Linked DNA regions of Homo sapiens. The protein of the gene in region 1 interacts with the protein of each later gene in a biochemical or structural test. Each region holds a gene or a part of one and is shown on either strand. Other genes may lie near its edges.

Evidence for each region. The genes of interacting proteins can lie anywhere in the genome.
Region 2: the proteins of MYH9 (region 1) and ATG9B form a complex in vitro, tested with the Homo sapiens proteins (one study listed by BioGRID).

What each region holds. Positions count from the first base shown.
Region 1 is NC_000022.11:36,293,866-36,297,512, forward strand, and holds part of MYH9 (myosin-9), read right to left. Parts: intron 3,150-3,647; coding exon 2,978-3,149; intron 1,853-2,977; coding exon 1,640-1,852; intron 1,212-1,639; coding exon 1,067-1,211; intron 434-1,066; coding exon 227-433; intron 1-226. UniProt on the Homo sapiens protein: Cellular myosin that appears to play a role in cytokinesis, cell shape, and specialized functions such as secretion and capping. Required for cortical actin clearance prior to oocyte exocytosis. Promotes cell motility in conjunction with S100A4.
Region 2 is NC_000007.14:151,022,312-151,026,058, forward strand, and holds the start of ATG9B (autophagy-related protein 9B), read right to left. Parts: upstream 2,184-3,747; 5' UTR 2,113-2,183; coding exon 1,563-2,112; intron 1,420-1,562; coding exon 1,376-1,419; intron 1,199-1,375; coding exon 1,134-1,198; intron 896-1,133; coding exon 734-895; intron 1-733. UniProt on the Homo sapiens protein: Phospholipid scramblase involved in autophagy by mediating autophagosomal membrane expansion. Cycles between the preautophagosomal structure/phagophore assembly site (PAS) and the cytoplasmic vesicle pool and supplies membrane for the growing autophagosome.

The DNA of each region.
Region 1 (3,647 bases):
GCACCGGGCGGGGAGACACAAAGGACCATGGACCCACCCCCACTGCTCCTGCCCCACCTCATCTCCTTTAGGTAAAGCTGGACCTGAGTCACAAGCTGAACCATGAGGGTCTGAGGAGCCAGTTTGAGAAGAGAGAGAGACAGAGAGCACACATGCACCTGGGGACCTGGGCCACAACTGCTGCTAGGGCCCACTGCCCGCGCCAGGGTCCTGGCGGAGGCCTCACCTGCAGCTTGGTGACCTTGTCGGCCAGCTCTGTGCGCACGCGCTCTCCCTCGTTGAACTTGACCTGCAGCTCCTGCAGCTGCGCCTCCACTTTCTTGCGCTTGTGCTCCGAGTCCCCTTTGCCCTGCAGCAGCACCTTCACCTCGTTGGCCAGCTCCCCCCGCTCGTTCTCCAGAGTCTGCTTTGCCTTCTCGAGGTTTGCTTTCACCTAGCAGGGAAGAAAGCAAAGACGTGAGTGGGGGCCTCCTGACACAAGGCTGGCTGGTCTATCATCACTGGACCCTAGATCCAGACATCGCTGCTTCTGCAGCCCTGACGACGGTGTGCCTGCGTCCTGGACTCAGACGGCTCGGGCCTCATCTGTCCTGTCCTCTTCTCTCTTAGCTGGTGGGTGACACTTGGTTCCTGTCTTCACTGCTTAGGACATCTCACAGCTTCCCCATCTCTAAAATAATACCTGCCCAGCCTTCTGCCCTGGGTAGAGGCCAGGTTCTAGGGCATGGCATTGGTGTTGCAGATGTTAGCAATATTTGTAACGCAATAAGGGGAACTATAATTGTTTGCAGTTAGACTTCCAATAAAGCCTGTCTGAAGTCTGATGTTCAAAGTAACGATGTAATGTTTTCACCCTCAAATAATCACGAGACAGACATACCATAATCCTCCCTTATGAACAGGGAAACTGAGGCACGAGTCACAAAGCCCCTTAGAAGGGGAGCCTGGCCTCAGAACCAGGCAGTTGGGTAGAACCCTGCAACTGCTCTGCAGGACTGGTTTGGATTCTGTGGGCCCAGCACGGGGAACCCTGCCCTCCCCCTGCGGTCTCAGGGAGGCTCCGCACCCGCTTCGTCTGCTCCAGCTGCTCCGCCAGCTCCTCCACGGCCTGTGAGTGCTTCTGCCTCATCTCCTGGATCTGGGCCTCGTGGGTCTTGGCCTCCTCCTCCAGGGTCTTCTTCAGGATGTTCACCTCCTGCTCACGTTTTGACCTGGACAGAGAAATCCCCTCAGAGTGGAGGCCGGGGATGCTGGAGCGAGGCTGTCCCTGGGGCTCTTCCCTGACCAAAGAGAGGCCTGGCCAGGGCACAGGCACTCCAGGCAGCTTTTCTACCCACCGGCCCCTCCTAGCCATCTATCCCATAGCCCAGGCTCAAATACGCCCTGTGAGAGCTTCTGTAGCCTTTCAGCTTTAAAGCCCAGCCTTGCCTCACCCCCAACTTTGAGCCAGGTCCTTCAACAGACTTTCTACTCTGTAGAGAGAAACCGCTGAGGAACCAGCAGCTTCCATGCCTGCTGGTGCCTAAGAGGGCCACGGTGTGTGTGTGTGTGTGTGTGCAGAGGCCCGGGGTCCATGTCTCCAAGCCAAGGCCCCCCTGGCTGCCCTCCCCATCCCGAGGGACTTGGTCCCAGGGCACACCTGAGCTCCTGCTGGGCAGCTGTGGAATCCAGCGTGTCCTCCAACTCTGTTTTCAGAGCCTCTAGCTCTTCCCCAAGGTCCCGTTTCTGCTTCTCAGCTTTATTCCTGGAAGCACGCTCAGACTCCAGGTCTTCCTGGAGTTCAGAGATCTGAGATTCCAGCTCCCGGATCTTCTTGAGGGCCATGTTCTTCTGGGCAGCTTCCTCTTCCACTCTGCCAAAGCGACCAGCAACATCAGTATAAGGAGAGTTTCACCTCCAAGGAGCAGAGTTTGCAGGACAGGCCTGAGAGAGCTGCAGCAGCCAAAGCTGCCTCCTGTGGTCACAATCATGGCACTTAGGATGGCTCTCAGCAGAAACAACATCTGAGACAACCAGATTGAAGGGCAACACCCCTCTGAGAAGCAGAAAACCTCATAGAGGAATCGTTTCAATTTCCAAAGTAAGATTCACTGCTTCAAATATTTTTAAAAGTCAAATGATGTGTTAAATGGGAAGAAAAGGAAATAAAACGCTACACCACAGGACAACTGCAACTCAGTAAAAATACGAATGTGCTACGGACTTTAGATGGTTATGACAGGTCAACGTAGGTTCACCAATTAGAACAGACACAGCACTGTGGTAGGGGATGTTGACTGCAGGGGAGGCGGTGCGTGAGTGGGGCAGTGGATAGATGGAGAATCTTCTGCTGACTCTTCTGTGAATCTAAAACTACTCTAAAAAATAAAGTCTCTTTCTTTTTTTTTTAAACAGAGTCTCGCTCTGTCACCTAGGCTGGAGTGCAATGGCACGATCTTGGCTGACTGCAACCTCTGCCTCCTGGGTTCAAGTGATTCTCCTGCCTCAGCCTCCTGAGTAGGTGAGATTACAGTCGTGTGCCACCACACTGGCGAATTTTTTATATTTTTGGTAGGGATGGGGGTTTCACCATGTTGGCCAGGCTGGTCTCGAACTCCTGACCTCAAGTGATCCACCCGGCTTGGCCTCCCAAAGTGCTGGGATCACAGACGTGAGCCAACGTGCCTGGTCAAGTCTTTTTTTTTTTTTTTTTTTTTTTTAAGTGTGCCTATAGCAAGAAATTAGGAAAGGACTATTGTAGGTGGGTGATAGAGCTGTGGATGACTTTTTTTCAAATTATAAACAAACAAAAGACAAATGAGGCCCCTCACCATGCCCTGAGTGCACAAGAACTGTTTTGCTATGAAATAAATGGCTCTTTTAAGACAACAGTGGAAAGAATGCTCACAGCTCACTAGTGCCGAGAACTAGGGCCAGCAGCAAGCAGGAAGGGCTGGCCCAGGCCACCTGGCCTCAGGCGGGCAGGCGGGGTCCTCACCTGGCCAGGGCGGCCTGGAGCTCCTCCTCTTTCTTGGCCAGCTGCATCTTGAGCTCCGCGATCTGGGCCTGGAGCTCGGCGATCTGGTCGCTGAGGTCTGTGGAGTCTCCCTCCAGCTTCCGGCGGGTCTTCTCCAGCTCCTGTCGCTGCTTCTCCTCCCTGCGGAGGCGCTCTGCAATGCAGGGGGAGCCCACATAGCCCTCAGTGCCATGGGTTCTGTCTCCGTGTCAATTACTTATACAAAATACTGAGCACTCGTTATGAAACGTGTGTCAGGCTTAAAGCATCACAAACACACAGACACTCGCACCCAACTCCTGGATGCAGGAAGAGGACATCACTGCAAACTGCTAGCCCCTGGCATGTCTCTCTCCAACTCACCCCTTGTCCTTCCCTGCCAGGAATTAAGTACTCTCCTAAAGCTGGTGTTTGTAATTCCCTTGGTTCCCTTGAAGGCTGTACCATGTCTGTATCTCTAAAAAACATGTTCAATTGTGTGTGAATCTGAACTTATATAATGGAACTGCCTTGTGTGAATTCCACAGTTGGAATCGCACGGTCAGGGCTCTATGTCTAGCTTTATAACTCTGTGATGTCACTTGGGAAAGCTACTTTCTATACCTCATCTGAATAATAAGCAAAAGGAGACAGCCTACTTCATTAGGATGCT
Region 2 (3,747 bases), on another chromosome or scaffold:
TTTTTATAGAGATGTGGTCTCACTTTGTTGCTCAGGCTGATCTCAAACTTCTGGCTTCAAGCAATCCTCCTGCCTCAGCCTCCCAAAGTGCTGGGATTACAGGTGTGAACCACTATGCCCGGCCTAATTTTAATTTTTTATAAGGTAAAATGTGGATAGATACGACTCCCATAAACAAAAGCTTTTCAGGATTCTCAACCAATTTTAAGTGTATTAAGATACACTTAATGCACTGTAATTAAGATACACTTAAAAGGCCGGGCACAGTGGCTCACACCTGTAATCCCAGCACTTTGGGAGGCCAAAGTGGGTGGATCACCTGAGGCCAGGAGTTCCAGACCAGCCTGGCCAACATGGTGAAACCCTGTCTCTACTAAAAATACACGTGGTGGTGCACGCCTATAATCCCAGCTACTGGGGAGGCTGAGGCAGGAGAATTGCTTGAACCTGGGAGGTGGAGGTTGCAGTGAGCCAAGACCTCACCATTGCACTCCAGCCTGAGCAACAAGAGTGAAACTCTGTCTTAAAAAAAAAAAAAGATATACTTAATACACTTTAAGTACAACTTAATACACTTAAGTACAACTTAAAGTATATTAAGTGTATTTTTGGTCCTAAGACCAAAAGCTTTGAGAACTGCTGATCTAGATGACGGGACAAAGTGGGGCTCCCGTCTACTCCTCTACCCACTGCCCATGCTTCACCCCCAGGGCCCCACCAGGTTGTCACTAACCTCTCAGCACACTGGGCTGAGGGTAGGATGGCATCTGACAGGGTCACTTTGCTGTGGAACGGCCCAGGTCTGGTATGGTTACTTGGTTGGTTGGCAAAGAGAACATTGTAATCCACGCATCGAAGGAGGAAGGTTGTGAAGGTGACAATGAAAATAAATTGTCTGCCGGGAGGAAGGGGGGGTGCCGGGATGCTGCAGTGATCAGGGACAGCCAGGTGGGCTCCTGCCCCAGCCCCCAGAGCAGCCCATGGTTATCCTCCCTGACCCTGCCCCTGCTGAGCCCTTGGGCTGCTCGGGAAAGCATGGGATGGAAGCAGCTGGCACAATTAAGGAAGCAAAATGACAGAAGGAAGCCATGGGCCCAGGGGACCGAGTTCCGGGCCCGGGCTAAGCGTCTCACCCCAGCTGGAAGACATCCTCCAGCAAGATGCAGGCAAAGCCATTCCGCTGGTGGTAGCTGTAGATGTGGCTGCGTGTCAAGGAACAAGCCTGAGGCACGGGGGGCCTCTCCTGAGGACACCTCCCCTCAGCCCCAACAAGTCTCCCACCCATGACGCCCTCACGGAGTCTCCCTGCCAAGAACAGTGCCAGCTCCAAGAGGACCTTCCCATGCCACCTCTGCAGGCCTAGCGCAAAGGATATCTTGGTGAAGAAACTGTCCAGGTTCTGGATGTGATGCCAGGAGCCTGGGCACAGAGGGGAGAGTGTCAGCCCCTGGCATGTGATCAATTCTCCACGTTCTCAACCCGCTGCCAGAGGCCCAGCCTGGGATAAGTACTGGAGCTCCCAGGCACCACTAACCCTCTCCCACCCACACCCACACACATACCTCGGAGCCCTTCAGGGACATGAAGCAGGGGTTGCTGCTCCTCCCCGTGGATGGGTGAGTCTTGGGACCCCTCAGGGTCACAGTCCTCCAGCCGCTCATAATCCTGTTCAGGGATCAAAGGGCCTACCCGCAGCCCAGGAGAGTCCTGGGGGCACTGCTGTGAGGGAGTGGGGGTTGCCGGGGCCAGGGGTGGGGTGGAGTGGGATCCCCAGGAGGGAGATGCAGAGGCAGGTGTCATTGCAGGTTGAGCCTGTGTTGGGGGGGTGGCTGGGATAGGGAGAGCACTGTGGCAAGACTGAGAAGCCCCTGTCCCCTGTAGCACTGAGCAAGGGGGCCCTGCGGTGGGAGGGGAAAATGAGGAGGGGGAGCTTCTTGTATGAGGGGCAGGGGACAGAGAGAAGATGGAGATCCTCCCTCCCCCAGGTCCCCGGCATGAAGGAGGAGGAGGAGGTGGCAGTGGCATGGGGAGGAGGGGCACCGATCCGGGCCCCAGATCTCCCCACCGCCCCAGCCGCCTTCTTCTCCCCCCCCAGCCCATTCGGCTCACCATCAGGCCACGGCTTCTCCAGAAAGGTTGGAAGGATGGGAGCTGTTGTTGCTTCCACAAAGGTCTGTGACACTGAGCTGGGACTTCAACAGGAACAATGACAACAACATTACTAGGTGACTCAGCCTAGGCAGGCCTCAGGCGTCCCAGCTCTCAGTCACCTGTCTGATCACTCACACCCCTTCCAGGGCAACCTGAGGCCAAATCCCTCAGGGCCTGAGAGGGGCATCAGTTTAAGAGGAGGGGCCAAAGAGCACATTGAGATGAGAAGATTCCTATTATCTCCATCTTCAGACCTTGAATGAATGAAAGATAAAAAGAACAGCAGCCAAAATGACAAAAGCAAAAAGCAAAATCGTGTTAGAGCCAGGTGTGGTGATGTGTGCTTGTGTTCCTAGCTACTCAAGAGACTGAGGTGGGAGGATGGCTTGGTGCAGGTTACACTGGAACAGTATAGGTTACAGTGAGCTAGATCCTGCCCCCTGCCACCCCCCCCAAAAACATCCTATTAAAGGATTGTAGCAGGGCGCAGTACCTCACACTTGTAATCAATCTCAGCACTTTGGGAAGCCGAGGAAAGAGGATTGCTTGAGGCCAGGAGTTCAAGACCAGCCTGGGGAACAGAATGAGAAGACTCCATCTCTACAACAAATCTTAGGACCAAGATGTTAACTATTTCATTTCTTAAGAGTGTACCTCCCCCACTTCCCTCCACACACACACTACAGTGATCAACAGAGAAATGTTTTGTGACCAAAACAGAAAAGAAGAAGTAAAGGGGCCAGGCATGTTGGCTTACACCCGTAATCCCAGGACTTTGGGAGGCCCGGGCGAGAGGATCACTTGAGGCCAGGAGTTCGAGACCAGCCTGAGCAACTTAGGGAAACACCATCTCTACAAAATCTAAAAAACAAACAAAATAATTTTTTTTCTTTTTGAGGCAGTCTCACTCTGTCACCCAGACTGGAGTATAGTGGCACAATCTCGGCTCACTGCAACCTCCGCCTCCCAAGTTCAAGTGATTCTTCTGCTTCAGCCTCCTGAGTAGCTGAGACTACAGGTGTGTGCCACCACACCCAGCTAATTTTTTGTATTTTTAGTAGAGATGGGGTTTCACCATGTTGGCCAGGCTGGTCTTGAACTCCTGACCTCGTGATCCACCCGCCTTGGCCTCCCAAAGTGCTGGCATTACAGGCGTGAGCCACTGCGCCTGGTCAAAAATAAATTTTTTAAAAAGAATAAGAAAAGGTTGCATGTTTTATTGGTCTGAGGTGCTAAGGAAGAGAAGAGGGGAGGCTGACTTTGCAGCCAAGTTGGGGAAAACTAAGAAGAGGAGGTGAAGAAAGGAAAGGCAGCTATCTTGGATTTGAGAGTTGGTTTGGAGAACTTAGAGTAGAAAATTGGGGTTCTCTGAAAGTTCCATTCCGTTTGCATCCTTATCATTTTCAACTGTGACATTCTCTCAAGTCCGGATCCCACTTCTGGGACCCCCTGAAAAGCATCAGGGCTGAATCAGAAGGGAGGACAGCTGTGAGTCTGGGACTTGGAAGGATAATTTGGATACCCAGGGAGGAGCTGAACTGAGTTCCTTGTTGTCACCTCAACAAGGAGGAGGAGACCCAGGCAGCTGGTCTGGTG